Homo sapiens: one gene and its partners. The protein of the gene in region 1 interacts with the protein of each later gene in a biochemical or structural test. Each region holds a gene or a part of one and is shown in the gene's direction. Other genes may lie near its edges. The genes, in order: TRIM69, UBE2H and EYA4.

Region 1 (11,370 bases):
ATACTGTGCTTTTCCGACGGGCTTAAAGAACGGTGCACCAGGAGATTATATCCTGCACCTGGCTCGGAGGGCCCTACGCCCATGGAGTCTCGCTGATTGCTAGCACAGCAGTCTGAGATCAAACTGCAAGGCGGCAGCGAGGCTGTGGGAGGGGCGCCCACCATTGCCCAGGCTTGCTTAGGTAAACAAAGCAGCCGGGAAGCTCGAACTGGGTGGAGCCCACCACAGCTCAAGGAGGCCTGCCTGCCTCTGTAGGCTCCACCTCTGGGGGCAGGGCACAGACAAACAAAAAGACATCAGTAACCTCTGCAGACTTAAATGTCCCTGTCTGACAGCTTTGAAGAGAGCAGTGGTTCTCCCAGCACGCAGCTGGAGATCTGAGAATGGGCAGACTGCCTCCTCAAGTGGGTCCCTGACCCCTGACCCCCTAGCAGCCTAACTGGGAGGCACCCCCAAGTAGGGGCAGACTGACACCTCACATGGCCGGGTACTCCTCTGAGACAAAACTTCCAGAGGAATGATCGACAGCAGCATTCGCGGTTCACGAAAATCCACTGTTCTGCAGCCACCGCTGCTGATACCCAGGCAAACAGGGTCTGGAGTGGACCTCTAGCAAACTCCAATAGACCTGCAGCTGAGGGTCCTGTCTGTTAGAAGGAAAACTAACAAACAGAAAGGACATCCATACCAAAAACCCATCTGTACATCACCATCGTCAAAGACCAAAAGTAGATAAAACCGCAAAGATGGGGAAAAAACAGAGCAGGAAAACTGGAAACTCTAAAAAGCAGAGCGCCTCTCTTCCTCCAAAGGAACGCAGTTCCTCACCAGCAACAAAACAAAGCTGGATGGAGAATGACTTTGACAAGTTGAGAGAAGAAGGCTTCAGATGATCCAACTACTCCGAGCTACAGGAGGAAATTCAAACCAAAGGCAAAGAAGTTAAAAACTTTGAAAAGAATTTAGATGAATGTATAACTAGAATAACCAATACAGAGAAGTGCTTAAAGGAGCTGATGGAGCTTGCTGTATTCAGGAAACCCATCTCACATGCAGAGACACACATAGGCTCAAAATGAAAGGATGGAGGAAGATCTACCAAGCCAATGGAAAACAAAAAAAGGCAGGGGTTGCAATCCTAGTCTCTGATAAAACAGACTTTAAACCAACAAAGATCAAAAGAGACAAAGAAGGCCATTACATAATGGTAAAGGGATCAATTCAACAAGAAGAGCTAACTATCCTAAATATATATGCACCCAATACAGGAGCACCCAGATTCATAAAGCAAGTCCTGAGTGACCTACAAAGAGACTTAGACTCCCACACAATAATAATGGGAGATTTTAACACCCCACTGCCAACATTAGGCAGATCAACGAGACAGAAAGTTAACAAGGATACCCAGGAATTGAACTCAGCTCTGCACCAAGCGGACCTAATAGACATCTACAGAACTCTCCACCCTAAATCAACAGAATATACATTTTTTTCAGCACCACACCACACCTATTCCAAAATTGACCACATAGTTGGAAGTAAAGCTCTCCTCAGCAAATGTAAAAGAACAGAAATTATAACAAACTGTCTCTCAGACCACAGTGCAATCAAACTAGAACTCAGGATTAAGAAACTCACTCAAAACCGCTCAACTACATGGAAACTGAACAACCTGCTCCTGAATGACTACTGGGTACCTAACAAAATGAAGGCAGAAATAAAGATGTTCTTTGAAACCAATGAGAACAAAGACACAACATACCAGAATCTCTGGGACACATTCAAAGCAGTGTGTAGAGGGAAATTTATAGCACTAAATGCCCACAAGAGAAAGCAGGAAAGATCCGAAATTGACACCCTAACATCACAATTAAAAGAACTAGAAAAGCAAGAGCAAACACATTCAAAAGCTAGCAGAAGGCAAGAAATAACTAAAATCAGAGCAGAACTGAAGGAAAAAGAGACACAATAAACCCTTCAAAAAGTTAATGAATCCAGGAGCTGGTTTTTTGAAAGGATCAACAAAATTGATAGACTGCTAGCAAGACTAATAAAGAAGAAAAGAGAGAAGAATCAAATAGAAGCAATAAAGAATGATAAAGGGGATATCACCACTGATCCCACAGAAATACAAACTACCATCAGAGAATACTACAAACACCTCTATGCAAATAAACTAGAAAATCTAGAAGAAATGGATAAATTCTTCGACACATACACCCTCCCAAGACTAAACCAGGAAGAAGTTGAATCTCTGAATAGACCAATAACAGGCTCCGAAATTGTGGCAATAATCAATAGCTTACCAACCAAAAAGAGTCCAGGACCAGATGGATTCACAGCCGAATTCTACCAGAGGTACAAGGAGGAACTGGTACCATTCCTTCTGAAGCTATTCCAATCAACAGAAAAAGAGGGAATCCTCCCTAACTCATTTTATGAGGCCAGCATTATCCTTATACCAAAGCCGGGCAGAGACACAACCAAAAGAGAGAATTTTAGACCAATATCCTTGATGAACATTGATGCAAAAATCCTCAATAAAATACTGGCAAACTGAATCCAGCAGCACATCAAAAAGCTTATCCACCATGATCAAGTGGGCTTCATCCCTGGGATGCAAGGCTGGTTCAATATACGCAAATCAATAAATGTAATCCAGCATATAAACAGAACCAAAGACAAAAACCACATGATTATCTCAATAGATGCAGAAAAGGCCTTTGACAAAATTCAACAACGCTTCATGCTAAAAACTCTCAATAAATTAGGTATTGATGGGATGTATCTCAAAATAATAAGAGCTATCTATGACAAACCCACAGCCAATATCATACTGAATGGGCAAAAACTGGAAGCATTCCCTTTGAAAACTGGCACAAGACAGGGATGCCCTCTCTCACCACTCCTATTCAACATAGTGTTGAAAGTTCTGGCTAGGGCAATTAGGCAGGAGAAGGAAATAAAGGGTATTCAATTAGGAAAAGAGGAAGTCAAATTGTCCCTGTTTGCAGATGACATGATTGTATATCTAGAAAACCCCATTGTCTCAGCCTAAAATCTCCTTAAGCTGATAAGCAACTTCAGCAAAGTCTCAGGACACAAAATCAATGTACAAAAATCACAAGCATTCTTATACACCAATAACAAACAGAGAGCCAAATCATGAGTGAACTCCCATTCACAATTGCTTCAAAGAGAATAAAATACCTAGGAATCCAACTTACAAGGGACGTGAATGACCTCTTCAAGGAGAACTACAAACCACTGCTCAATGAAATAAAAGAGGACACAAACAAATGGAAGAACATTCCACGCTCATGGATAGGAAGAATCAGTATCGTGAAAATGGCCATACTGCCCAAGGTAATTTATAGATTCAATGCCATCCCCATCAAGCTACCAATGACTTTCTTCACAGAATTGGAAAAAACTACTTTAAAGTTCATATGGAACCAAAAAAGAGCCCGCATCGCCAAGTCAATCCTAAGCCAAAAGAACAAAGCTAGAGGCATCATGCTACCTGACTTCAAACTATACTACAAGGCTACAGTAACCAAAACAGCATGGTACTGGTACCAAAACAGAGATAGAGATCAATGGAACAGAACAGAGCCCTCAGAAATAATGCCGCATATCTACAACTATCTAACCTTTGGAAACCTGAGAAAAACAAGCAATGGGGAAAGGATTCCCTATTTCATAAATGGTGCTGGGAAAACTGGCTAGCCATATGTAGAAAGCTGGAACTGGATCCCTTCCCTACACCTTATACAAAAATTAATTCAAGACTGATTAAAGACTTAAACATTAGACCTAAAACCATAAAAACCCTAGAAGAAAACCTAGGCATTACCATTCAGGACATAGGCATGGGCAAGGACTTCATGTCTAAAACACCAAAAGCAAGGGCAACAAAAGCCAAAATTGACAAATGCGATCTAATTAAACTAAAGAGCTTCTGCACAGCAAAAGAAACTACCATCAGAGTGAACAGGCAATCTACAAAATGGGAGAAAATTTTCGCAACCTACTCATCTGACAAAGGGCTAATATCCAGAATCTACAATGAACTCAAACAAATTTACAAGAAAAAAACAACCCCATCAAAAAGTGGGCAAAGGACATGAACAGACACTTCTCAGAAGACATTTATGCAGCCAAAATCACATGAAAAAATTCTCACCATCACTGGCCATCAGAGAAATGCAAATCAAAACCACAATGAGATACCATCTCACACCAGTTAGAATGGCATCATTGAAAAGTCAGGAAACAACAGGTGCTACAGAGGATGTGGATAAATAGGAACACTTTTACACTGTTGGTGGGACTGTAAACTAGTTCAACCATTGTGGAAGTCAGTGTGGTGATTCCTCAGGGATCTAGAACTAGAAATACCATTTGACCCAGCAATCCCATTACAGGGTATATACCCAAAGGACTATAAATCATGCTGCTATAAAGACACATGCACATGTATGTTTATTGTGGCACTATTCACAATAACAAAGACTTGGAACCAACCCAAATGTCCAACAATGATAGACTGGATTACGAAAATGTGGCACATATACACCATGGAATACTATGCAGCCATAAAAAATGATGAGTTCATGTCCTTTTTAGGGACATGGATGAAATTGGAAATCATCATTCTCAGTAAACTATTGCAAGGACAAAAAACCAAACACTGCATGTTCTCACTCATAGGTGGGAATTGAACACTGAGAACACATGGACACAGGAAGGGGAACATCACACTCTGGGGACTGTTGTGGGGTGGGGGGAGGGGGGAGGGATAGCATTAGGAGATATACCTAATGCTAAATGATGAGTTAATGGGTGCAGCACACCAACATGGCACATGTATACATATGTAACTAACCTGCACATTGTGCACATGTACCCTAAAACTTAAAGTATAATAATAATAAAAAAAATGGTGGAGTAGAGAAGTCCCAAAGTCCATCCCTCCACAAAAACTGGCAAAAATTTTGAAGATCGAGTTTTTTAAAACTTGAAACTAATCAAAAGCTTACAGCAACCAGGGAAATATTTAATAATAATTAAATAAAACCTTGAATCTCTGTAAAATAACTTTTTAACACTTTAACTTACTCAGGTTTTCCTCATTTCCCATCTTGGTGGTGGTTTTAAAGACAGCTGACATTCCAACTACAGGTACATAGTACAAGTGGGAGCAGCATGGACCTTATTCCCAAAGAACTGTGGCTTTGACCTGTCTGGTGCTTCCATGAAGTATTACATAAAAGGCTTGCCATTAGTTTGTTTAACTCAGAACTTTTTCACAGATGAGATGGCTACCCTGGAGGTATAGTTTGGAAACATTTAAAAGCAAATGTTTTTATTGCTGCCACCTGGGGAAAGGCATAATAGTTGGGGCAAACAATAGAGTAACCAAAAAGCTGAGAAAGAAAGGCTGGGGAAAGAGTTATTTTGGGGAATACCCTTTGAAAAGTACCCACATATTCCTGGTAATCTAGAAGGCCAACTGCATGCCCAGGACTGAGTGCATACTAAAAAAAAAAAAAAAACCTGAGAAAGACCCCAAGTTTTCTTCTCGGAGTGACTTTTAGGATCTGTGTAAGCAGGAACTGAGGACTAAGGAAGTTGTAAACTGTGTGTTGAAGGCATGCTCAACATATACGAAGCCCATTTACAAAGACTGGGAGGTTTTTGTTGTTGTTGTTGTTTGATTTGGGTTGATTCTAGGCATTTAAGGAAATCTCTGTTGAACTATTAGATGACTACTAAGTTCATGGGACAGAATTCAGTAGCTACATGTGACGAAGAATACAGACTTTACAAAATTTGTTTAGAAAAGTCACTAACTAAACAAAACAACTACAACAAGAAGTAACAAAAAACCCCAGAGAAGGTGGAAGATTCTGATTTCCAGAGATTTCACATTATACTTGTCAAAGTATCGGATATTCAACAAGTATAAATAAATAAGAACATATGGCCCATGGACAGGAGAAAAGGAAATTAATAGAAACTATTCCTGAGGAAGCTCAGACATTGGACTCACTAGACAAAGATTTTATATCAATTATTTTAAATATTCTCAAATAGCTAAAGGAAACAATTTGCAAATAAGGAAACCATGAGACTGATGTCTCACCAAATAGTGAATACCAGCAAAGATGTAGAAGTTATAAAAAGGAACCAAAGAGAAATTATGGTGTTGAAAAGCATAATAACTGAAATGAGAAATTCGCAAGAAGTGTTCAAATCAGATTTGAGCAGGCAAAAGAAAGAATTCATGAAACTGAAAATAGGTCAATTGAGATTATGCTGAAGATCAGGGAAAAAAAAGAATGAATAAAAATGAGCAGAGCCTCAGAAACCTGTGGGACTGTTATGCATAGTTGGAGTCCCAGAAGAGAGGAGAGAAGGGGACAGAAAGAATGCTTAAGGAAATAATGGTTTAAAACTTTTGAAATTTGACAAAAGGCATAAAGCTATACATCAAAGAAGCTCAACAAACTCTATGTAAGTTAACAGAGAGCCACACCAAGTTATAATTAAACTATTAAAAGCCAAAAATAATCTTAAAAGTAGCAAGAGTGAAGTGACTTATGTACAAGAGAGCCTCAATAAGTTAACAGCTAATTTTTCATCAGAAATCATGGAAGCCAGAGAGCAATGGGATGACATCTTCAAAGTAATTGAATAATCCACAAAGAATTTTGTATCTGGCCAAACTATCTTTCCAATATGAAGAAGAATTTAAGACATTCTCAGACAGACAAAAACTGAGCTTATCTCTAGTAGATCTTACCTACAAAAAATGACAAAGGGACTTCTTCAAGCTGAAATGAAGGGACATTAGACAATAACTTGAACCCAGACAAAGACATAAAAAAAGCACTCATCAAAGAACTACCTATTTTTGGTTTGTAACTCTTCTTTTTTTTCTAAAGTTTTAAAAGATAATAGCATAAACCAATAATTGTATATAAAAAAAGAAATCAATCTTAGTTTAAAACTCAAGTGTGCAAAGAATAGCACATAGTATTTTCTATAACACTAAATATTGGCTTTGCATTCCCATTCCTGTGGGCTGGAGGTAAATTTGTTATCTTTCAGGAAAGGCATCCACACTGATTAATGCTGAAAGTCCATTACCCAGTCTAGTCAAATTCATATATTGAGGACATTTGAAATATTCTGCCCACTCCCAGCACGTGCACGTGCACACACACACACACACACACACACACATCTTTCTTTAAATATATAGAAACGTTAAAGTGTCAATAACAATTTAAGTGTTAGTTTTTAAATGGTGGATTAAAAACTAATTTTCTCCCTTCTCTTAGAAACTCATCCTTCTTTAAGTCAAAAACCACAAGGAGAATGAAAAATAGACAAATAATTTGCAATGAAACTAGAGACATCAAATAGCTTGGACTACAATCTATGAGGAAGGACTGCCAAATATAGTGAAAGTCAAGCAGGAATGTGAGAAAGGATGCCTAGGGAAGCAGACCTTACATGAAGGGAGGTGGTACTTTTCCAAAGAAAGTACCCCATCCTGTTGGCCACAACCCACAAGCCCTGGTACAGAACAAAGAGAACAGGCAAGCAGGCTTAAGCTGGAGTAACCCATTTGTTATACAGATTTGAGATATGGGAAAGGTGAAGTTGAACAAGGACAAATATGCCATATTTTCAGAAAGCAGTCTGTTGCTGAGGTAGAATGGAGGAGAGAGACTCTGCATTGCAAACAACCCTGCAGTGTTGATCATGGGGAAAAAAGAACCCATGCAAACATTGTTTTATAAAGAAAATAGCCTCAAATATAACCCTGCCTCCATCCTCATACAAGTCTCTTGCAAATAGCTGATTCAGGAAGAACTCACCTCATTCAAAGGTGTTTAAAGAAATACAAAATAAATAGCATCTATAAAACAACAAAATGGGAGAAAATGTCCAAAGCAAAGCACAGAAAGTTATGGAGTTAGAAGATATGAAAAAGAAATTAATAGAAATAAAGACTGGAGTGAGAAGCGTCAACATCTGTCTGATAGGAATTTCAGAAAAAGAGGCTACAGAGAATGGTTGAAAGGCAACATTCAAAGAGAAGATGGCCGTATTAGGTCCAGACAGGCAAGACCCAGGTTTGGGGAGATCAGGCATCAGCAATAGGGAACACAGGCTATGTGAGAAACTATGGAGCAAAGGGCTACAGACTCAATCAAAAGCATTTTCACAACAAAAGTGAGAATGTAGACATGGAATGAGGGCAATATAAATAGTTATTAATGAGAATGGAATTTGATCATGAGGCAAAGAATGTTTAGCCATGTTCCCCTGGCTAGAATAAATCTGAATATAAGGGAAACTAAGCCCATAAGGAGAGGTAAATGTAAACTTCTAACGAGGAATGGGCAGGGTTAGGAATGAGGAACAGAGCAGTTCTGGATACTCCAATTCTCAAGTGGATATATAGCAGATGGAAATTGCTCTGGCCTTCAGGATAGAGTTCTTTGAATTCCCTGATTTCACCAGTGACTTGAGTGTCAGAGCAAGTTCGTACTCCTCTGAGCTCCAGTTTTCCTCTCAAGAACAGAAGAGTAACCTCTGGACAAACTCTCAGGGATTTTGCCTCAGAATACATCTTCTGTCTATATTTAAGTTTTTTATCCTTCAGAGGAAGATGATATGCAAGTTGAAAAGTAGAAGCTAGGGACTTCTAGTTGCACTTTGTCCTGGTCCCATAAATGTAGTGGAGGTCCAGATGTGAGCAGCTCTTGGGCAGAGCCTCTATGTTATTCATTTCTATGACCCAGGAAGTATGGGCATAGAAACAAAGCTGCCATCACTGAATGTTTATTTACACCATTAGACCTTTAGGCACTGAGATTGAAGCCACTTCTGGTGGCCACTTCTGGTGGCTATTCATCAAATAGTAGCCCACCCTGGAAGGCATTATATAGCATTCTGCAAAGCAGGATATTATTCAGTATAAAAATTCTGGCTCTGGGCTGGGCGTGGTGGCTCATGCCTGTAATCTCAGCACTTTGGGAGGCCAAGGTGGGTGGATCACTTGAGGTCAGGAGTTCGAGACCAGCCTGGCCAACATGGTGAAACTCTGTCTCCACTAAAAATACAAAAAATTAGCCAGGCATGGTGACGCATGCCTGTAATCCCAGCTACTCGGGAGTCTGAGACAGAAGACTCGCTTGAACCTGGGAGGCAGAGGTTGCAGTGAGCCAAGATCATGCCATTACACTCCAGCCTGGGCGACAGAGTGAGACTTTGTCTCAAAAAAAAAAAAAAAAAAAAAAAAATTCTGGCTCCGGAGTCAAATGGCTTCAGTTTAGTATTATTAATTTTTTGAGATAGGGTCTTACTTTGTCGCCCAGGCTAGAGTGCAGTGGCATGATCTAGGCTCACTGCAGCCTTAACAGTCCAGGTTCAAGCGATTCTCCAGCCTCAGCCTTCCGAGTAGCCGGGATTACAGGCACGTGACACCACACCCAGTTTTTGTTTTTGTTTTTGTTTTTTCCGGTAGAGACAGGGTTTCACCATGTTGCTCACGCTGGTCTCAAATTCCTGGGCTCAAGCGATCAAGCTTTGCCTTGGCCTCCCAAAGTGCTGGGATTACAGGCGTGAGCCATCATGCTTGGCCTACAGCTTCCATTTTTTCAAAAATTGAGGTAAAAGTCATACAACATAAAATTAATCTTTTAAGATGTACAATTCAGTGGCATTTAGTGCGTTCACAATGGTGTATAATAATCACCTCTATCTAGTTTCAAAACATTTTCGTCCTCCCAAAAGGAAACCCCATGACCAGTCACTTCCAGTGATATGAGCAGTCACTCCCCATATCTCCTTCTCTCCAGCCCTGGCAACCAATGATCTGCTGTCTCTATAGACTTACCTATTCTGTATATTTGATATAAATGGAATCGTGTAATATGTGACCTTTTGTGTCTGGGTTTTTTCACTTAGCATAATGTTTTTGAGGTTCATCCATGTTGTAGCATGTATGAATACTTTATTCCCTTTTCTGACTGAATAATCTTCCATTGTATGAATATGGCACACTTTTCCATTCATTAGTTAATGTGCATTTGGATTGCTTCCACCTGTGCCTATTGTGAATAGTGCTGCTATTAACATTTAGGTACAAGTTTTTGTTTGACTATCTGTTTTCAGTTCTTTTGGGTATATTCCTAGAAGTGGAATTGGTAGGTCTGTCTTATGGTAGTTTTTTGTTTAATTTTTTGAGGAACTGCCAAACTGATTTCCACAGTGGTTGCACCAATTTATATTCTCAATTAACAATGTACAAGAGTCCATTTCTCTGTATCACCAATACTTATTGTTTTCCATTAAAAAATTACGGCAATACAAGTGAGTGTGAAGTGGTATTTCACTGTGGCTTCGATTTGAATTTTCCTAATGACTAGTAATACTAAGTATCTTTCCATGTGCTTGTTGGTCATTTGTTTATCTTCTTTGCATAATTGTCTATTCAAGTCCTTTGTCCATTTTAAAAATTGGGTTGTTTATTTTTTGCTATTGAGTTGTAAGAGTTCTTTATTCTGGATAATAGACCTTATCTGGTATAGGATTTGCAAATATTTTCTTCCATTCTGTGAGTTGTCTTTTCACTCTTTTGCAAAAAGAAAACTAAAAATAGTTTGTTTTTTGTGATGTCTTTATCTGTCTTTAGGACCAAGATAAGCTATCCTCACAGAATGAATTAGGAAGTGTTCCCTCTTGTTTTTTTGGAAGAGTTTGAGAAGGATTGATATTAATTCTTTAAATAGTGGGCAGGATTACCAGTGAAACCGTCTGGTCCTGGGCTTTTCTTTGTTGGGAGGATTTTGATTACTGATCTACTCTCTTTACTTTTGTAGGTCTGTTCAGATTTTCTGTTTCTTCTTGAGTCAGTTTTGGTAGTTGGTGTGCTTCTGGAAATTTTCCATCTCATCTGGGTTGTTCATTTGTTGGCATACAATTGTTCATAGTTTCTTATAATCCTTTTTTATTTCTGTAAGATCTGTACTAATTTACCCACTTTCATTTCTGATTTTAGTAATTTAAATCTTCTCTCTTTTTTTCTTCATCAGTCTACTTAATGGTTTCTAAATTTTGTGGATTTTCCCTCCAAAGAATCGCATTTTTATTTCATTACTTTTTCTTTTTTTTTTTTTTTTTTTTTTTTTTTGAGACGGAGTCTCACTCTGTTACCCAGGCTGGAGTGCAGTGGCGCGATCTTGGCTCACTGCAAGCTCTGCCTCCTGGGTTAACTCCATTCTCCTGCCTCAGCCTCCCGAGTAGCTGGGACTACAGGCGCCTGCCACCACGCCTGGCTGATTTTTT
Region 2 (11,370 bases), on another chromosome or scaffold:
TCATGGGGCATCTGGGACATGTGTATTAGTATTTTTCTAAAGTTAATGTAGAATGTTTTTTACCCTAATTTTTCTCCTCTTAATACCAAGACATGAACATTTCCCATTATTAAAATGTCTTCATAAACCACATGCTTCTTAAATCTAGACTTTGAAACATCTTTAATTTCCTTAATGAAAAATTAATATTGGACACAAAGATTTTTTTTCATCAGAGTAACTTAAACATCACATAGGCCCTCTTGATTGTAGTAGATAGAACATTATGCTGTTTCAACACAGAGCATTTAAAAACAAAAGTTAAAAGTGTGAGTGACTAGAGTGGTCTAAGACTGGACTACTTGGACTTGGTATTCTTATCCCCTGTTTTCTACTTCAGGGGAAGTTTCTCAGGTTTTTGGAGACAATCTCTGTAGCGCCTCACTTGAGGCTCCTCCTCCAGTGCCATTTCTCTGCATCTTTCCTGACTCTTCCCATTTTACTCCGCCTACTGTATCAATACTTTATTCAGATTGCAGGTATTTATTGGTGTCTCTTGTCCCACTGCCACAGTGACCTCCTCAAGAATAGTGAACTGTCTTATTTTTATACCCTATCCAAGCACAATGCCTGCGGTGTAGGTGCTGACCAAATATGTTCTGAATGAATATGAGAGAGAGAGACTGTGGGGATGGGGGTGATGGAGGATGGGGGTCGGAGATAGTGGTGGTGATACTCACCTTAATAAGGAACTTCAGATATTGAAAGTGTGGAACAGAATGAGTCCTAAAAGGAAATGAAGTGATAAGGATGACAAAATGACACCTTTGACAATGGATCTCTGCTTTAGAATATTGCCATTTGCATATATACTGACTGACTGAATAACTGGTTTTATTAATTTCTCCTTGAAGTTCAAATGGCCATATAGCTATTAAAGTGTGTACTTGGTTTGCTAGGAAAAATTTTAAAAACTTAAACCTCCAACAGATATAGCCAACTTAGAGTATTTTTTTTAACTCCTTGCTTGGTTGCCCCAATTTTAATCAAAACTGGGTTTCCCTGAATGAGTAGACTAATGTTAAAGGAAATATTTTGGTCACTGCTTTTAGGAAATCCTTTGTGGTTTGAAGTGGTATTCCTTTAGCATTTCAACAGTTTCATTCATGTTCCGTGCACAGTGCAGCCAAGTGATACCAGTAAGTGAGCGTCAGAAGGAGAAGTTGAAATGCAGAACCTCCAGATTTAGAGCTTGAACAACAAAACTTCTGGGAGAGTGAAGTTTCTTAACTTTTATCATGACACTGGCTATGAACCATTTAGTAGTATAATTTATCTTTGAGCAGTACCTTCATAGCTCAGAAAACAGTTGCTTTAATGATTGTTTTGTATAAGAAGCTGCATTTCTCCCAGTTTGCTCATTTGTTAATAGAATGCTGATGTATTCCAAATAATTGGAGCTATCAGGAGAATATAATGTTTATCAGTAATGAAAGATCTAAGGTTGAAAGTAGTGATTTATAAGTATTATCACCTTTTCCCAATACTGAAATTGTTTCCAGTACTGAAATACTTTTATTGTTCTCTGGATACTTTTTGCTGCTAATTAACATCTCTTTTTACAGGATTCATGAATAAAATTTTCCATCCCAACATTGATGAAGCGTAAGTAACTATTTTAAAATGTTTCAATTTTAGCAGCAACTGCTCATGATTAGTGTTTCTCTGTGTTATAAAAAGCCTCGGTTATCTTTTTGGACCTTATCAGGAGGTAGGACTGTATGAATGGTCATGTAAATGATAGAATCCAAAGGATATGAGGTTCTCAATCACTTAGTTCACATTCTGCTGTTGTACCACTTATTTTTTTCCATTGTCGTGACTGGGTCCTTCATTTTTCTTGTTACCCAGCAAACAGTAGTAATATTCCACATCTCACTTCTCTTTTTGTAGACACAGTTCAGAGATCTGTTTTCAGCCTACAGATAGACTATTTTCAGATCTTATAATATTTTCTCAATTCTTGATAGATAGTAAGGCAAAATGACTATAGTTTCATTTCAGTTAATGAATCTTATTTATCCCCTTCTTTCCTTCTAATATTTTATTAATGATACTTTAAAATATTCCAGCATATCCTGTTTTATACTTCTAGTGCTGTTTAGAATATATTATTGTTTGGGATGCAATTTTAATTTGTCATGGCACTAAGTTTTACTGTCTCTCACAAACATACCTAACAGGTTTTTCTGCACTCTGTGTGAGTAGGTTGTATATATACATACATCATGCCCCTTAGTCCTTTAATATTAATATTTTATTGTATCAGTTATCCTAACAAGGATATTCTCTTATCTATCCACAGTATATAGTTGTCAGATTCAGGAATTTAACGTTAATGCAATACTTATTTAATCTACTGCCATATTCCAGTAACTTACTTTTTAGCACTTTTTTCTTTCAATAAAGGATCCAGTCTAGAATCACACATTACATTTAGTTGTCATGTTTCTTTAAACTGCTTTAATCAGGATTAGTTCCTCAGCCTGCCTTTATCTTTTATAAAATTCACTTTTTAAAATAACATAGACCAGTTATTTTATAGATTGTTCCTCAATTTGTGTTTGTCTGATGTTTCCTGATCATTAGATTCAGGGCATGAACACACTTAAGGCCAGAAAACTACAAAGTAAGATGGTGTCCTTCTTGGGGTATCACATTCAGAGACACACAAGGTCTGTCTGCCCCTTGTGTTCTCAGCACCTGGTTCAGGTGTTGTCTGGTTTCTCCATTGCATAGTTACTATTTTCCCCTTTCAGTCTGTAAGGTGACACTTCAAGACCTGGTACTATTCTGTTCCTCATCATACTTTTCCCCAATTGGGATTCTTTTTTTCACAGATCTATTAGAAGTATTTCTCTTGATAAGTAAAAATTAGTTGCCAGATACATGCAACTAACTTTCTAATTTTTAAAAACATGCCATTCTTTCCATCTGTTTCAGGTCAGGAACTGTGTGTCTAGATGTAATTAATCAAACTTGGACAGCTCTCTATGGTGAGTTTGGCCATGGAATATTTTTTGGAGATGTTGAGACATTGCCTAAAAAAATGTTGTTTGGCTTTTCTTTTCTGGTTTAAGATGTTTTGTTGGTAATGGGAAGGGATTTTTGAGGGACCGACTGGGAAAGTTTGATCAGTGGAAAAAATGTTTTCTCTTAAGTACAAATATATCAGTTTAGCTGTGGAAGTTTAAAATGATTTTTTGAGATTCCAAACTTAAGGTATAGTGATACATGTGCACACACATGAGTACATGCGCACACACATGAATACATGTGCAAACATTTTATATGTATGTATTAGCACATAATATATACATATTTTGGTTTTGGAAAAAACTAAAACTACTTAGGAATGTCCCTCTGAAATGAGAGAGCAATGATATAGTAAGAGGTTTTAGGGGATCATCTTTTCAAAGACCAAAACCTCCTTATGAAGGAAGAGTAATTTAGCCTTACCTTCAGTGCTGAAATTGACACCCCATCTCTTACAGGGAATCAACAAATGAATTGCCCAGCTCTGCAAAATGCTATGCTGAATATCCCAGAGAGTTATAAAGAGCATCAGGCCTTTCCTCCTTATCACCTGGTTGGGGAGCTGAAAATATGTTAAAATACAGTCATCTCTTGGTATCTGCAGGGGATCAGTTCCCAGACCACCTGCAGATACCAAAATTCATGCTTACTCAAGTCCCACAGTCATCCCTGTGAAACCCACTGACATGGAGGGCTAGCTGTATTTATTGAAAACCACATGTGAATGGACCCATGCAGTTCAAACTGTGTGTGGACCCATGTTGTTCAAGGGTCAGTTGTGTATTTGAAGTTAATTAGGGATACAACAAATAAATCTGTTTTTCCCTCCACATGTCCAAATCTCAGGCTTCATAGAGTCTACCTACTCCAGTGCTCCTACCCCGTATACTTCCGCTGATTCTCCAGCTGGAAGTAATCTCTGGATACCATTACATTTTATAGCTCCTTTTTTATGGTCCACTTTTACTTTCTACTGTGTATTTGTTGTTTATGCCTATTTTTTTGTGCTACTAGATTATTTCCTATCTTAAGGGCTATCGGGTGTGTGTCTGATTCATCTGTAAGGCCCAGGACTCTTATCACAGTGCCCTTCACCAGTATGGGTTGAAAGAATGAATGGTACAGGTAACCATTGCTGAGAGGCACAAGAAAAGAAGGGAAAGCTCAGTTGAGGCTGAGCTTAACCAGGGATGGCTGCTTCTTGTTGAACTTGTACGACCTTTTAGTGGTCTGAGGTAGGTAAGACTTCTTAGTCCAGCCACAATCTGCAAGTTACTTTTGCCAGATATCCTTGAACTAGATTGGTAAATGAGAATCACAGAGAAAGGTTGGTCACCAGCAGAACACAGTTAATCCCTGCCTCCACCTGATTGTGCCGTTCAAAAATTATTTTCTCTACCTGGGATATTCCCCCCTGATCTTTGTGTGGTTAGCACCTTCTTCACTCATCTCACATATTACTTCCTCAGAGCAGTTTCCTTTCCCAGCTACTCCATCTGAAATCACACCCCTCCATAGCACAGCACCCAGTTGTATATATATTTTTTAATTTTAAAATTATTTTTTAATACATAGAAACAGAGTTGCACTCTGTTGCCCAGGCTGGAATGCAGTGGTGCGATAATAGCTCACTGCAGCCTTGAGCTCCTAGGCTCGAACAGTCCTCCCATCTCAGCCTCCCCAGTAGCTGGGACTATAGGTGCATACTACCATGCCTGGCTAGTACCCCGTTTTCAATAAGCTTCTAAAACTGGTATTTGTATATTATTTATCTTATCCCCTTGGATTGTAAGCACCATGAGTGAGGACTTTGTCTTGTTCTCGTCTCTCTCTCTCTATACACACGCACACGCACACGTGACTGTAACAGTGCCTGGTGCACAATAAGGGTTCGACTATTTGTTGTCTTAATGAGTGAATTAATCATGTCCAGAACTGTTTAACAAGAGAGTTTTAGGGGAGATGATGGCATATAGTTGAGGCAACAAGAAAGAACATACACTCCGAGCTTGATTAAATGGATTCCTTTTAAGATGGTTTTTTTGGTAAAAATGTCTCATGGCAGGCTGCCTGGAATATCTGATGTAATGATGTGTTTTCTTAAACTACATTCACATCTTAAAAATGTACATATCAAAATACTGCAATCTGGTTCCAATTACAATGAAGTAAATTGATGTTTAGTTTTGCTAAAGCTTTTACCATTGACCAGAAAAGCTTTGTGAAAGATGTTTGCTGACTGTCAAGTACTTCATGTCTCAGAACAGGTTTTTTAAAAAAATAACAGTTTCACTGAATTATAATTCACAGACATGCAAATCACCCATTTAAAGTGTGTAATTCAGTAGTTTTTAATACATTCAGTTATATGCAGCCATCACCACAGTCAATTTTAGAACATTTTCATCACCTCAAAAATAAATGTGTACCCTTTAACTATTCGCCCTAGGCAACCACGAATCTGCTTTTTGTTTCTGTGGATTTGTCTTTTCTGGACACTTCTTAGAAACGTAATTATATAATATGTGGTCTTTTGTGACTGTTTTTTTTTTCACTTTGCATAATGTTTTCAAGGTTGATCCGTGTTGCATGTATCGGAAGTTCTTATGGCTGAATAATATTTCATTGTGTAGATAAACCACATTATTTGTCAGATAATAGACATTTGGGTTATTGCTGTCTTTTGGCTATTATGAGTGTTATAAATATTTGTGCACAAGTATTTGTGTAGACATGTTTGCATTTCTCTTGGGTATATACCTAGGAGTGAAATTGCTGGATAATATGTTTAACTATTTGAGGACTGATAGACTACTTTGTAAAGTGGCCAACATGAGTAAGTTTTCATCACATTTATAAAATGTTAGTGTACTTACATTAGCTTGCAAAGCATTTAATAAGCAGCAAGAGTTAAACCACGTTGGTCCAAGTGAACTGAAAGCAGACTTCTGTGTTACATGTGTATGAGTTACTGAACATGTTCCATAATACAGGAGTGTGAGCACACTAACAGGTAAGTGCAGGAAAACAAGAAGAAATATTTTCAGAGTATAGTCAAAAGTACACTGAGCATGGGAGAATTGTTTTGACATTTTGCTCAAAACTATTTCTGAAGAAAATTCAACATTTCTTTCACGGAAAGTTTTAGGAACAGGTAAATACAATTATATAAAGTACTGGTAGAATATGTTCGTTCAGATGACCTTGAAGTGTTTTTTCAGACTTATCTGAACTTGAGATCTGAACTGAATTTTTATTAGAAACTGTTAAAGCCTCTGGCATTGAAGGTTAGTTCATAATTGGTGAGTTCTGAATCACTTCATTTCCTGCAGTGGTTCCTGAGAGAATCTTAGTTCAAAGGACTGCCCCCGCCAACCCCTGCCCCGCCAAAAAAAAAAAAAAAAAAAAAACTAACACTAAATAACTAATAGGAGAAAGTTGGCGTGTCAACATAAATATTCAACTGAAAAGCAAAAGGCTAAGCCTGGCACCTAAAACTTGTTTCAACACTTTCCTCTGCTGTAGATTCGATGAGGGAGCAGGGAGTGGATTGTGAAATTTCCTGCCATTTACCTTGCCCCAGGACATGTACTGTTCTGTGGGTATACATATTTGTAGCGTAACAACAATTCACAGTTGAAATTTCAGATGTATGTTAATCATAGCCTGATATTAAACAACATTCATGTTAGCAGTAAATTTAGTCCTCTGTCCCCTCACACCCTTCCCCGCCATTGATTTCTGGTAAGCCAGTTGACTCATTGCTTCTGTTCTTATCCTGTTTTCTCTTTGCCAAGTGTATGTGCAATTTGTTTATTCAGAGTTCAAAATTGGTATAATTGTGGTTTACTCACCCAGTAATTTTTAATTTTGTATTATTTAACCTTACAAGAGAGCTAATTATAGTGAGGAATCGGATTAATTTTGTAAGATGCTTGCCATCAGTATGAAGTTATCAAGTATGAAGTTATCTATTGTTATTGTTATGACATTAAACAGAAAGTAGCAGATGACCAAAGTGATTTTGGCTTCCTGCATGATAGCATCTTTTTTTTTGCATCCCTTCCTGCTCTTCCAGACAGCAGTGACAGAAGCTCTGAGAAACATAAAATGTAGCCAAGGGGATCTGGATTTCCATTTCAAAACAAATTAATTTTAAGGACTGATAGGAGAGTTCATTAAGCCACAGGTAGCTTTTTAAGCACTCTTCTATTTTCCAGTTTTCCTTTTTTTCTCCAAAATATATTTTATCTGTAGTTGGCTTATCACCCTGCACTCCTGGGGGCCCAGGTGCCTTCACTGCGATACAGCTTTAATCTCTCTCTCATCCCACCCTTCTGGACCAGGCATGCTTGATCCCTGCAAATGTGTTTCTCTCTCCAGCTTTCATTTTACTCATTCTTTGACTGCCTTCGTAAATTATTTATATGATGGATTAAGTTGTAGGCTGGGCACGGTGGCTCATGCCTGTAATCCCAGCACTTTGGGAGGACAAGGCAGGCGGATCACCTTAGGTCGGGAGTTCGAGACCAGCCATAACCAACATGGAGAAACCCCATCTTTATTAAAAATACAAAATTAGCCAGGCGTGGTGGCGCATACCTGTAATTCCAGCTACTCGGACAGCTGAGGCAGGAGAATTGCTTGAACCCGGGAGGCGGAGGTTGCAGTGAGCCCAGATTGCACCATTGCACTCCAGCCTGGGCAATAAGAGCAAAACTCCATCTCAAAAAAACAAACAAAAAAAAAAGTTGTGGAGAAGTGAGGTGGAAGACAATTTTCTTATGAAATTGGGCAGTTTACATTTTCACTCTTAGGGTTGCTAGCCAGTGGACTAGATACTTCTACTCTTATTTTGCTGGAGAGAAAAATCAACATTTGGGAAAAGTCTTCCCCTAGAGTTATCTGGGGAGTTAGTAACAGGCAAATAAAATTGACTACAACAGAAGGAATACTTCAAGGACTTTGAGATTAGGCAAGAGATACAAATTTTTTTTTTTTTTTGAGACGGAGTCTCGCTCTGTCGCCCAGGCTGGAGTGCAGTGGCACGATCTCAGTTCACTGCGAGCTCCGCCTCCCGGGTTCACGCCATTCTCCTGCCTCAGCCTCCCGAGTAGCTGGGACTACAGGCACCTAAAATTTATTTTACCAGGCATTTAGAAATTTAAAATACAAATTTAACACTTATCCCATCCCCTTTTCAGTTAGATAGTCTGTGAATCTTCCCAAATAATTCAGATTTTGGCAGAAGGTATATCTTAAAATAATGCTTTATGCTGGATTAGTGCATGCTGTTTCCTAAACATTTTAGTGTAACTACACAGATAAGAAATACATGTATGTGTCTTCATGGATGATTAATTGGCCAACTACTATTTGAACAGCTTGAGAACTTCAGTATTGATCTGTCCATGTTGAATCACAAACGTCATCCTGCCTTTGGAACAGCTGGATGTCATTATTTGTAGATAGAGGCCAAGTAGAGCAATTCTGTCCAGTACTATTGGGATAATGTCACCTGTTGTACATAATAAAGAAATGTGCTCAGTTGTGGATTTGCGCTTCAACAGTGCTTAGCTAGCTCCGTAACCAACCTTCTTTATCTGTCTGCTTGGAAATCTTCAGATGAGGTGTATGTGGCTCAGGAGTCTAACTAGTTATATACATAAAAATGGAGTCTTGCTGGCTTTGAACAACTTAGTGGACATTCATTAAAAATACCACACTCACTGGTGGTCAGCTTTAAAACCATGGGGTGGTCCAGGCTTTTTGGATCGTGGGACATGAGCCAGCCAGGGTATGGCTCTGAAAGACAGCCACAGCTATGCTCTACTTTCGTAGGGGCTCTGATTTTAGGGCTTGTTTCATTCTTGATTATATGTAAATGTAACCTTGATTTGTTTTATCTTCATTCACTTACGATTACTGAGTTATAAAGTCTTCCCAGCGTATGGACACTTGGCTTGTAATTGCAGGAAGTTACCTCTTGTTATTCTTTTCTGATATTAACAACTAAATTATTGTCTAGTAATTACAAGCTTGAATAGCGAGTTTTAGTATGACAGCAAGACTATCCAGCTAGCTAATTACACATTAACTGCCCTCATTTCTGGAAGGTTAATAACAAATCCTATTACCATGTTTTAGCTTACAAGCTCTTAAGGTAAGCAGGGTTATAAGGTTTGAACGAGGATGAATTACCTCTAAAAAACACCCAAATAGACGAGAATTGTTTTGAGATTGACAATGCAACAAGAGCAGTGTTTTTGATGAACAAGAGCTTGTTTTCTTCATTGTGATCTATGCAGTAGCACTTATTTTCTTCTGCAACTCTCTGAAGTTTAAATATGTTGGGGGGAAAGGGGCTACAATTAGGCAATGAATGGGAAATTACCTTTTAAGCGGGTTTGGAATGCTTTAAAAACAGTCTATGTCCTGTAACTACACACCTCAGTTTGGTGGCCTGGTAGCCTGGCCCTGAGCAGAATGTGGCTGGTTTTCCCAGTTTCAGCACCCTGCATCCATCTGTCCATCTATCTTTTCTCTTCTCTTTTCTCTTCTTTCTTTCTTTCTCTCTCTCTCCTTTCTCTCTCTCTGTCCCTCCCCCCATCCCCCTTCCCTCTCTCTCTCTTTCTCTCTCTCTCTCTTTCTTTTTTGAGACAGAGTCTTACTCTGTCGCCCAGGCTGGAGTGCAGTGGCGCAATCTCGGCTCACTGTAACCTCTGCCACCTGGGTTCAAGCAGTTCTCCTGCCTCAGCCTCCCAAGTAGCTGGGATTACAGGCGCCTGCCACCGCACCTGGCTAATTTTGTGGTTTTAGTAGAGATAGCATTTCACCATCTTGGCCATGCTGGTCTTGAACTCCTGACCTCATGATCCACCTGCCTCGGCCTCCCAAAGTACTGGGATTACAGGCGTGTGCCACCACGCCAGGCCAGCGCCCTGCATCTTTCATATTGCCCTTTCCCACACAGCACAGGAACACCTGTTTCTAGCTTTGAATACTTAAAAACCAAAATGCTACTACTGAGATTTAAATGTATTTATCATGTATGTTGCAAACATTCTTTGAGTGTTTGAATTCCTACTAATTGTTATTTTTTTCTTTTTTTTTGAGACAAGGTCTTGCCCTGTCACCCAGGCTGGAGTGCAGCGTGGCTCACTGCAGCCTCAACCTTCTGGGCTCAAGTGATCCTCCTGTCTCAGCCTCTCAAATAGCAGAGACTACAGGCATGCACCACCACATCAGGCTAATTTTTTATTTATACTAGAGATGGGGGTGTCACTATGTTGTCCAGGCTGGTCTCGAACCCCTGGGCTCAAGTGATCTGCCCACCTGGGCCTCCCAAAGTGCTAGGATTACAGTCATGGGCCACTGCACCCAGCCACCTTTTTTGAGAGGTGGGAGGAGGGAAGAGTTTGGTGTGTTTTTTAAGCATCCCACTTCTTTTCGGAGGTGTTTTCACCTGTTTCTGTTTTTTTATTTTGTTTTGTTTTGTTGCCTGCATGGCCCTCTTCATTAAGACTTTATCTTTTAAAGATCCCCATGGGCTAATATGAGAAGATATGTGAATCTGCTGAGCTTAGACTTTTTATATATTTTCTCCACACATGAGACCCTCTCAGTCAAGTAATTGTATGAATTCTTTAATATACCTTTTAGTATTTGGTGGCGGGTTATATTATCTTAATTGCAGCTAGTTAGCCTTCAGTAAACTAGGTGCAGCATTGTGAGCCCTGTGGCCAGTTGGGCCTGAGCCACAGCACTGCAGGAAGTCTGGTGGGTTGCTTCAGCTCTCCACCTGTGTGCCCTCAAAACAGGTGGAGAAATGGGCTTTTTGTCACTGAAGTTGAGTTCAAATTAATTGTTTTATTATTTTATTTTATTTTATTTGAGATGGAGTCTTGCTCTGTCACTCAGGCTGGAGTGCAGTGGTGCAATCTTGGCTCACTGCAACCTCTGCCTCCTGGGTTCAAGCGATTCTCCTGCCTCAGCCTCCCAAGTAGCTGGGATTACCGGCGCCCACCACCAAACCCGACTAATTTTTGTATATTTAGTAGAGACAGGATTTCACCATGTTGGCCAGGTTGGTCTTGAACCCCTGACTTCAAGTGATCTGCCCGCCTCAGCCTCCCAAAGTGCTGGGATTACAGGCGTGAGCCACTGCGCCCGGCTCAAATTAGTTATTTTAGAGAATATTACTTTTAATCTCAAAACTGTTTCTTTGAATTCTGCCTGCCTATCCGATTGGTTTTACTGAAGTTTTCCTTGAGGGGCTGTCTGTCATCTTTTAGG
Region 3 (11,370 bases), on another chromosome or scaffold:
TTAAAAGAACACTGCAGTGAGAAGGTGAAAGTAGCATATAATGAATTTGTAACTAACTAGCAAGTTTGAAATGAATATTGGTATATCAAAAACATGTTGTAGTCATGTATGGCACTTAAAGACATTTATTTTAGTTCAGGTACTATGTTATATGTATTTCAAAAATACCTGGCAGGATCTTTGGTAGAAGTAGTTCATGAGAAAATACTGGTATTGACTTTCTCTTCTCTGAGTATATAGCTTTTTAGTTGTGTTTTAGAATGTGATAAGAATTTCATTTGACTCAAACCCTAGAACTTAGCTATTCAACAATACTGTACTTAATCAATAAAATAATTGAGTTTCTGCAGATAAATTGAACTCTCACTGTATATGCGTGCCACACAAATGCTTGCACATCCAGATAAAGTGCCCAAGGAAACATAAATGATTTTTACTGACTTGAGTAAACAAGCACTAAAACCAATAGAATCAAAACAGTAGCTTTCAAAAGCATTCAGTACAGTTACATACATAGCGCCCTATCCTTCTGCATCTGACTTTGAAAGGCAGTTTTACTTTCACACAACTTTTTATTTCAATAAACCTCTTACAGCCAAAAATTGTCTTGGGCTCCATAACTGGAATTAAATGATTTCTACTCTTGTTGACAAAAAGAATTCCTCAAGAGAGTAACTCTAACATTAGCTTATTATGTTGTCATTGTTGATGTTGAATATTTAAGCTCTCAGGGTGCTTTTCTTAAAAAAAAAAAAAAAACCGAACCATCTAATTTGACACTCCATTCTTTCAGTAGATACTGCAACATATATAGTAGCAGCTGTTCCTCACATAATTCCTTAAAAGATACAAATTTAAATCCTCCTAATAGACACTTCACTGCATCCTGCCCAACTGCAGAGAAGGCAGATGCCCAAACTACCCTCCCCCAACAGAAGAGAATCCTGTGTGTTTAAATAAAGTGCTATTTCGGTTAGAATAACCTCCAGAAAAGAAGTCTCAGGAAGTTTGAGATGGCAAAGGTGAGAAAAGACTGCTGTGAATTATAACTGATAAATATCAGTGACCACTTTTTGGTCACTTTGTGAGACAAAATTAAAGTATTTAAAGTTAGTTCTAGAATATTTTCAAATGTTTGAGTTTTATTAAAATTTGTTAAAGCCAAAACATTACAGTGTTTTTAGTATTTCACTTTTTGGTCAAAATGATTCTTACAAAGTTTCTCAGAGTGAAAAATAATTGAAGGACAATTATTTAGCTTTTTCTAAAAATGTAAATAATGGAAGTTCAGGTTTCTTTCACTGGACCGTAATCCTCAGGCAACCGTCCAGAGTCAACAGGCATAGTTAACTAGGCATAAATTTAAAGAAAAGTTAAATTTGGAAAAACCTCAAATATAACCTCAATTATGGAGCTTATGGTCCAATAAGTGTGATATACTGTTGTCCTCAGGAGTAAAAGATAAGTTTTTGGGCAACCTATGTACAAATTAATCATGCGAGTTAATATTTAATGTCAGAGGAATTTCTCTAAAAATTACAATGAGAGGATATTAAATAGAGAAATAACTTCTGATTACCAGGGAAATTTACAAGGATTCCTCCACTTTTTTGAATGTCATTAATTTATTATAAAAGAGAAACACAGAAGTTATTTACATGTGGAAAGATTTCAGAGCTTCAATGGAATGGGCAACTTCATGTGACACCATTTCAATAGTGATTTATTTCAGTCTACGGACTTTCCAAGTATGTCACCATCTCTAAATAAGAAATAATCTCATCATTTAGAACTACTTTGGTGCCTCCATATTCTGGGAGAAAAACTTTATTTCCAACCCTTATGCTAATGGGTAAAATCTCTCCACTCTTTTCCTTAAAGCCCAGTCCAGCAGTTACTATCATTGCTTGCAATGCCTTTACTGGATGTTTTTCAGGAAGCATAATGCCTCCTTTGGTTACAGTTTGGACTGCACTCCTTTCAGCCAATACTTGGTCAAAGAGGGGAAGACATTTTCTAAATACCTGTCCGGCCAGGCCATTCCTTGGGCAGTCTCTGCACTCTTCTCTCTCCCTTCCTTCCACTCTTGACATAAATATCTTCTTACTCTCCTCACCATTTAGAATGCTTTTATTTTATATCATCGTAACCTTGTGTTAGAAAATTTAAATGATTGTGGTAATCCTGTAAAGAATTAGCATTTGTCTAGACTTCTCCCATTTATTTAAGAAAGAATTGTGGAGTGATTATTCTATGCTAGATTGTGCCGTAAGTGGGGATGTAACCTGGTGAACCAAATGCCGCACTCCAGGGCACTTCCAGTCAGATTAAATTTGGGGACCCATACGTGTAGGTGGAGATTTATTCAAAACTTACTAACCCTGTAATTTCTGTAAATTATATGAACTTTTAACTTACCTGGATTTTCAAGTTACATACTCAGAAGGTACTGATTGGGCTAGTCACTGAGTTTTGTATATTAAAGGAAGCCTGAGTCAACTATACCTTTAAACTGGAACCGGATTAAACACTTTCTGTGTGGAAATCTGGAGACTAGGTATGAAATATTTGACTGCCAGATACTTTCAAGCCCAATAATGAATATAAATAGTAGCTTTCAAAAAACCTTTGTTTAGTATGGTGTATTTTCAAATTTAATGATTTTTTTTAAAAATTAATTTTGAATGCTAAGCACTATGTATATAGTCAGAAGCTGTAAGTATGAGTAAAATACTTTGAGGGGGACTAAGGAGGCCCAAGATGCTAAACCATACTTACTCTGAGGTTAATATGATGTAGTTATTTATTATAAATAATTTATTTTTATTTATTATATATTTATTATTCTGAGAACTAGGCATTTTAAATGCCCTCACCAAATTTCACCTTTAGATCTTGTAATATTGCGCTGGAACTTTGCAGATTATTTGAAGATGGACTAAGACTCAGAACAGCAAAGAAGGATCAAATCCTTATCCACATAAGTTACCATTTGTTCTGAGCACACAGTAACTTACAATCAGGTCAACTGTGGCCGGGCGTGGTGGCTCACACCTGTAATCCCAGCACTTTGGGAGGCCGAAACAGGCGGATCACAAGGTCAGGAGATCGAGACCATCCTGGCTAACACAGTAAAACATCATCTCTAGTAAAAATACAAAAAACACAAAAAAATTAGCCAGGCGTGGTGGCGGGCGCCTGTAGTCCCAGCTACTCGGGAGGCTGAGGCAGGAGAATGGCGTGAACCCAGGAGGCAGAGCTTGCAGTGAGCCGAGATCGCGCCACTGCACTCCAACCTGGGCGACTAAGTGAGATTCCATATAAAAAAAAAAAAAATCAGGTCAATTGTGTGGGTATACTTACATAAAGTTTATTTTGCTTGGAATTTTGTAGCACATTTGAGATGATAAATCGTCATTATTTCCCTTTTACTTAAAAGTAGTCTTTTTGATTTGAAAATTTAAAAACTTGACAAAAAGAAAATGTCAATATCTATGATCATTACCCTTTTTCTGTGTCAAAAGACTAGGACCTTGAAATAACACCAGCATGGTTCTTTCATGGTTCTGGTCCAGCAGGAAGTCATGGAAATTCCACAGGACACCATAATCTGAAGGCAAGCCCCTCTGTTGCCACTCAACAAATGATAAATAATAGTAACCATCTGAGGTGTTCAGACTAAGTTTTGTGTATCTTCAGATTAGCCATGCTTAAGTATGCACAACAGAAATGGCCTGGAAGGGAACTCAAATGCTTATGAAGATTCAAGAGAATTTCTTATCAATAATTTTAAGATTAAAATTTTTAAATTGCTCTAAAGAAACTCTCATGCCGTATATTTTCTCACCCCTCCTTTCTATGGAACTCTTCTGGATTTAAATTTTGTGGGGTAGAAATGGTGCCATTTCCCAACAGAAGAAAACAAGAGTGAGGCAATGAGATGGACGGGCACATGCTGCCATCTTCTGGTGGTAGTCTGATCAGATGAGAAGATGGGAAAACCTTCAAGCATGGTAACAAGCATCATTTAGAAAACAAATAACTTTTCCAATGTTTTTAACAGGAGTGTGATCAAGTTCATATAGATGATGTTTCCTCTGATGATAATGGGCAGGACTTAAGGTAAGCTATGCCTTTCAGTATGCTGTTTCCTACAGAAATTCGGCTGTGGAGTTTTGCACATGTAATTATTTCTTTTTAATGTATTTTGGGTGTTACAGTACCTACAGTTTTGCAACTGATGGCTTCCATGCAGCTGCAAGTAGTGCAAACCTTTGTTTGCCAACAGGTGTAAGAGGAGGGGTTGACTGGATGAGGAAGTTGGCTTTTCGTTACAGAAGAGTAAAAGAATTATATAACACCTACAAGAACAACGTTGGAGGTATGTGTGGCTTTTTCAATCTAACAAAGGTACTCTGGGTATAGGTAGAATTCAATCTGTAGTTTCATGTTAAAGATGATTCTGCTGTAAAAGAAACAAGCAAAAGCTCATATTAAACCACATTGAGCCAGAAGTTTCTTAGAATTGGTGGGAAAAAATTTAACTACAAAATAAAACATGCACCACCGTCACATAAATTGGGAATTCTTTGTGTAACCTTGTGCCCAGATGTTTGGTCAAGATTTATACCAGGGCATTTAGTTGACCCTTTATCAGCTGGTGCTTGGAGCATTATCAGTGAAAATCAGACAGAGGAACTAACCGAGGCAACAGAAAGAAGTCCTTTCTCAAGTAGAGAGCCTCAATCATTGAAGGACGGTGGTTAGCAAGCATTATCTTTCTGGAATCCCATCAAAAATAAATATAAACAGTTATTAATGTCATTTCAAAGACTTTCAACAGGTTTATTTTATCTTTTAAAAAAATCATGTTTTATGTCAGTGTATCATTCTCATGCATAGTGTCAACTATGATTATCATAGTTTTTAAAAGTTCAAATAATCTGTAGGTAATATCAAAACCATTTTATACCCCTTCATATATTTTACAGGTGATATCAAAACCTTTGCTATCAAAACTGTGATCCTGGATGTGCTTCTATATATAAAATAAACCTTGGTGATATCTTATTAGAATCAATTTTAGGTAAACAAGATTCCTAAAATTTGCTATTAGGTCACATCAGATTAATCTCCCAGGATTTTGTTTCTTTATGTGCTTCTCTTTTTTTCTAAAAAGGAAGAGTAATTGAGGAACATAAACTAGAATCCAATATACTAAATATACATGTGCATACTATACATACATATATTCACATATATATCATAGAATACAATATAGTAAATAAAATGTTCATATATAGTATATAATCACATATATCCATATACATCATGAGGGTGGGGCTATGTGTCTGGTCACCTTGTATCCCCAGTGCCTAGCAGTGAAACACATAAGAGATGCTCAACAGATACATAATAACTGTAAGAGAACAAAAAATGTAGAGCCAAAGAGGATAATAATGTTAGCAACAAAAGGGAGCTTAGATATGGAAGACATTCATTTCCAAAAAGAAATTGACCCCTGCAAGCTGCCGACTTGCATGGGGTGCTGGGGAGAATCTCTGATTTCCTGATTTGCTCTAGTGCTCTGTACATGATGCTTTTGTAAAATCAAATAAGTAGATTTTCTAGTTAAAATCAATGGTAGATAATATGTTTTAACTTTAAAATAAATATCCCCTTGGGAAATCTGAGTTAATTTTTATCATTCAGATGTCATCATTTCCTTCTTGCGGTGTATTAATAAAATTATTTTAAGTTAACAAGAAGACTAAGAAGTAATCTTGTATCTTAGAAACTTTAAACAACCACGAGTCTACTTTCTGTCATACGTGAGCATCTCTCTATTATAATGAGGACAAATGAGACTTGCTAGAAACTGTAAATTTTGATTGAAAAAACCATACAAGTGTGTATGTGCTCCCGATATTCTAAAACACAATTTCAATAAGAAACCTTCCTTTTTAATGGATTTACATGATCTTGTTTTATCATAAAAGCAAGAACTGGATCTTTTAAAATAAAAAATTAGCACATCTATCTTTTTTCTTTTAACATCAATATTATAATTCATGATTGTAACTGTCCTACACTTCATGATTTTAAACAAAATTATTAATTTTTTACATAGCAAAGTATTTATAGTAGCATTAGCAGTAGTATTAGAAACATTTTAACAGCTACATATGATGATGCCATTGTTACTGTTTGAAAGTGGAAATGATTGTGATTATTAAGAAGCTAAACGTTTTCAGACAGTCAAAACATTTGGGATTTGTGTCCCTAGGTTGGTGAAGCCCAACTATTCCTCCAGACCTCAAATATCACAGTCCCTTGGAATAAGATCCAGGCAGGGGCATGTTCAAAGCTCTTTAGATGATTGAGATCCACTGCGCTAGATTGTAGGATCAGTGAGGGCAGAGACTGGGGCCACTTTTCAGTGGCACTACCTGAGACCTAGAAGTTCAGTAAATATTCATTGACGGAATCAATGGATATTCAATTCAGAAACGAAGGATCAATATGGACATAAATCTGTATCTCTCTGCATTTCTGATATATACTGAAATAAAAATGATCTATTCCAGACAGAAGGGAATCTAAACTAGATATTCTGAGACAATATTCATCTCTCGACTCTGCCTTGGTTTTTTGGTGTTGCAGGACTCCTTGGCCCTGCCAAGAGGGATGCCTGGCTACAGTTAAGGGCAGAGATTGAAGGTCTGACAGATTCCTGGCTAACAAATGCACTTAAGTCTTTATCAATTATTAGCACTAGGTAAGTGGAATTGTTACCTTTCTATGTGTATCGTATTGAAGATTTAGTTCTAATTGTACAACATAGAAAAAATGTTTTAATTCCTAGACTGTTTTAGACTTTAAGGGACCTAACAATTCTGAGTTCAGTGATTTTTTCAATTTCAGTGCATGTGCATGAGAGAGAGAGAGAGAGAGTGTGTGTGTGAGTGTGTGTGTGTGTGTGTGTGTGTGTGTGTGTGTTGGGATGAGAGAAGGTTGCTGCTTCTCAGAATAAACAGGAGACCCTATCTCACCACCCATCTCTTCTCATAGCAACTGATAATCCCCACAGAATGGTTACATGACTTCTAATGAAAAAAGAAAGAGAACTCAGTTGGTGGCAAAGTACAAGGGGGTGATGGCAAATATGAAACAGTACTGTTGATACAAAAAGGCATGTTTTAGGTGTTAGGCCATAATGGATAATACACATAATGTAAGCACATCAGAAAAGCAGGAGAAAGCTCTTGAAAAAATTCTAACCATTTTGTTGTTTGAACTAAACAGTGAAATTCTGACTTGTGTCAGTATACAGAGCAGAATTAAATTGATTTGTAACCAGTTGTACAACCAGGTGCCAAATATGCTAATTCATAAAGTGATGTAAGTAAGTCTGGAACGTGATAGCTGGTAAGGTAGAGTTGAATCTCTGTACTGTCCGCTTCCATTATTTTATATCTGAGTTAGGTGAATAAATAAAAGCATGCTTAATAAGTGGGAGCTAAATGATGAGAACTCATGGACACATATAGGGAAACAACAGACACTGGGGCCTACTTGAGGGTGAAGGGTAGGAGGAGGGAGAGAATCAGAAAGAGTAACTGTTAGGTACTAGACTTAGTACCTGAGTGATAAAATAATCTGTATAGCAAAACCCCGTGACCTATATAGCAAACATGCACATGTATCCCTGCACCTAAAATAAAAGTCAAAAAAAAAGAATCTGTCAGCATTTCCATTAAGAAAAGATTAATGGGTCAGGCGCAGTGGCTCATGCCTATAATCCCAGCACTTTGGGAGGCCGAGGCAGGTGGATCACGAGGTCAGGAGATTGAGACCACCCTAGCCAACATGGTGAAACCCCATCTCTACTAAAAATACAAAAAAAAAAAAACAAAATTAGCTGGTCGTGGTGGTGCACACCTGTAGTCCCAGCTACTCGGGAGGCTGAGGCAGGAGAGTTGCTTGAACCTGGGAGGCGGAGGTTACACTGAGCTGAGATCATGCTACTGTACTCCAGCCTGGAGACAGAGCAAGACTCTGTCTCAAAAAAAAAAAAAAGTAAAGAAAAGATTAATGAGAACGTGCAGTATTTGCTTTTTTGTTCCTGTGTTAGTTTGTTAAGGATAATGGCCTCCAGCTCCATCCATGTCCTGGCAAAGGACATGATCTCATTCTTCTTTATGGCTGCATAGTATTCCATGGTGTACATGTACCACATTTTCTTTATCCAGTCTATCATTGATGCACAGTTAGGTTGACTCCATGTCTTTGCTATTGTGAATAGTGCTGCAGTGAACATGTGTGTGCATGTGTCTTTATTATAAAATGATTTATATGCCTTTGGGTATATACCCAGTACTGGGATTGCTGGGTTAAATAGTAGTTTTGTCTTTAGATCTTTGAGGATTCGCCACACTGCCTTCCACAATGGCTGAACTAATTTACACTCCCACCAAATGCCGCATGTTCTCACTTACAAGTGAGAGCTAAATGATGAGAACATGTGGACACATAGAGGGGAACAACACACACTGGGGCCTTCCAGAGGGTGGAGAATAGAAGGAGGGAGAGGATCAGCAAAAAGAAAAATGGGTATTAGGCTTAATACCTGGATGATGAAATAATCTGTACAACAACCCCCCATGACACAAGTTAACCTATGTAACCAACCTGCCCTTGTACCCCTGAACTTAAAATAAAAGTTGGAAAAGAAAAGATCAATGAATAAGATGACAAATTGTTAGTTTTAAAAAAAGAAGAAAAAAGCATGCTTAATAAATGTATGGGGAACACAGCATTCAGAGAAAGATTTATTTGGACTAATTGAATCAGAATGCAGAAAAGCCTGACAGGGCAAAAAAAAAAAAAGTTAATATTAAGAACATGAAAGTAAATGAATAGTTGTCACATCCTGCACAGCTTCTGACTCGTGGCACAGGCAGAGCTGCATGGATAGCAGAAAGTCCAAATGGAGAGCGGAGGGGAAGTAGCTTCCTGTGTCTGACTGGGGAAGCCATGGCAGCTTAGTTTGTCAGTTCTAGGGACCATATTCCAGTGGGGGCTGTGGCAGGGTTGAAGCAGCCTGTGTCAAGTGTGGCAGTCACGGGTTTGGACTGTGGGAACCACCTAAAAGAAACAGATGGAAGGAGGAGCCAGAGAGCTTAGTCAGAAGAGTCATGTGCAGAACCAAGATTACCAATTTCACCTGTTTCAGACGTTAGGCTGAAAATCAATTAGATTTCTCCCTGTGTCTGGAAAGGAAAGAACTGGGACCAATGAGTAGGAATCCTGCAAGGGAGATTCTGGCTCTATATAAGGAAGAAATGTCTAAACCAGTTGAAATGGGACTTGCTATCTCATGTCCTCTGTAATTGGTGACAAGAGAGACCAAATGTCAGGGACGCTGGAGCACGAGGACCCCTGAGCCACTGACATGATGTGTAAAATGTAGTGGAGTGTGCATTTCTCTGAGAAGGAGGTTGATAGCTTTCATTATTTCTAAAAGATGTCTTCTATATAAGTTAAAAAAGATGATTACATTATTAGATTATATATACTATATAATATATACAGATTAATTATTAAACAGATGGCTTTAAGGCAACTAAAGGAATATGTGATATTCCAGAAATAAATAAAGATATAACAAGGAAGGGAGGAGAAAAAGAAATCAACATACATTGAGTAGTTACATGCTATGGAATTTGCTGAGTTATCCACATATATTACCATATTGATACAATTGCAGTTTTGCCATTACTTTTAATGGCAAAAAACAAAATTGCTTTTGCACCAACCCAATAGTTTTCACAAAATGCCTGGAATGTCAGAAAAACAGATGCTTTGTTGAATTATGTAGTAGAACCCCTAGCAAAATTAACTTACCCTCTGACCCTAATTATTCTGTGAATATAGTCTCAGAATAACGAAAGATGTAAGAATATATTTTGGTAGCATTACTTGTAATATTTAGAAATCAAAAGCCACTTAAGCAACTCAATTTAACTCTAAAAAATTCTGGTGCATCCCACACCACACCTATTCCAAAATTGACCACATACTTGGAAGTAAAGCTCTCCTCAGCAAATGTAAAAGAACAGAAATTATAACAGACTATCTCTCAGACCACAGTGCAATCAAACTAGAACTCAGGATTAAGAATCTCACTCGAAACCGCTCAACTACATGGAAACTGAACAACCTGCTCCTGAATGACTACTGGGTACATAACGAAATGAAGGCAGAAATAAAGATGTTCTTTGAAACCAACGAGAACAAAGACACAACATACCAGAATCTCTGGGACGCATTCAAAGCAGTGTGTAGAGGGAAATTTATAGCACTAAATGCCCACAAGAGAAAGCAGGAAAGATCCAAAATTGACACCCTAACATCGCAATTAAAAGAACTAGAAAAGCAAGAGCAAACACATTCAAAAGCTAGCAGAAGGCAAGAAATAACTAAAATCAGAGCAGAACTGAAGGAAATAGAGACACAAAAAAACCTTCAAAAAATTAATGAATCCAGGAGCTGGTTTTTTGAAAGGATCAACAAAATTGATAGACCGCTAGCAAGACTAATAAAGAAAAAAAGAGAGAAGAATCAAATAGACGCAATAAAAAATGATAAAGGGGATATCACCACCAATCCCACAGAAATACAAACTACCATCAGAATACTACAAACACCTCTACGCAAATAAACTAGAAAATCTAGAAGAAATGGATACATTCCTCGACACATACACTCTCCCAAGACTAAACCAGGAAGAAGTTGAATCTCTGAATAGACCAATAACAGGATCTGAAATTGTGGCAATAATCCATAGCTTACCAACCAAAAAGAGTCCAGGACCAGATGGATTCACAGCCGAATTCTACCAGAGGTACAAGGAGGAACTGGTACCATTCCTTCTGAAACTATTCCAATCAATAGAAAAAGAGGGAATCCTCTCTAACTCATTTTATGAGGCCAGCATCATTCTGATACCAAAGCCAGGCAGAGACACAACAAAAAAAGAGAATTTTAGACCAATATCCTTGATGAACATTGATGCAAAAATCCTCAATAAAATACTGGCAAAACGAATCCAGCAGCACATCAAAAAGCTTATCCACCATGATCAAATGGGCTTCATCCCTGGGATGCAAGGCTGGTTCAATATATGCAAATCAATAAATGTAATCCAGCATATAAACAGAGCCAAAGACAAAAACCACATGATTATCTCAATAGATGCAGAAAAAGCCTTTGACAAAATTCAACAACCCTTCATGCTAAAAACTCTCAATTGATGGGACGTATTTCAAAATAATAAGAGCTATCTATGACAAACCCACAGCCAATATC

The links.
Region 2: the proteins of TRIM69 (region 1) and UBE2H form a complex in vitro, tested with the Homo sapiens proteins (one study listed by BioGRID).
Region 3: of the proteins of TRIM69 (region 1) and EYA4, one has a biochemical effect on the other in vitro, tested with the Homo sapiens proteins (one study listed by BioGRID).

What each region holds. Positions count from the first base shown.
Region 1 is NC_000015.10:44,739,528-44,750,897, forward strand, and holds part of TRIM69 (E3 ubiquitin-protein ligase TRIM69), read left to right. Parts: intron 1-11,370.
Region 2 is NC_000007.14:129,849,176-129,860,545, reverse strand, and holds part of UBE2H (ubiquitin-conjugating enzyme E2 H), read left to right. Parts: intron 1-1,604; coding exon 1,605-1,644; intron 1,645-2,982; coding exon 2,983-3,035; intron 3,036-11,370. UniProt on the Homo sapiens protein: Accepts ubiquitin from the E1 complex and catalyzes its covalent attachment to other proteins. E2 ubiquitin conjugating enzyme that transfers ubiquitin to MAEA, a core component of the CTLH E3 ubiquitin-protein ligase complex.
Region 3 is NC_000006.12:133,508,658-133,520,027, forward strand, and holds part of EYA4 (protein phosphatase EYA4), read left to right. Parts: intron 1-1,615; exon of another isoform or gene 1,616-2,069; intron 2,070-4,063; coding exon 4,064-4,122; intron 4,123-4,220; coding exon 4,221-4,381; intron 4,382-6,663; coding exon 6,664-6,778; intron 6,779-11,370. UniProt on the Homo sapiens protein: Tyrosine phosphatase that specifically dephosphorylates 'Tyr-142' of histone H2AX (H2AXY142ph). 'Tyr-142' phosphorylation of histone H2AX plays a central role in DNA repair and acts as a mark that distinguishes between apoptotic and repair responses to genotoxic stress.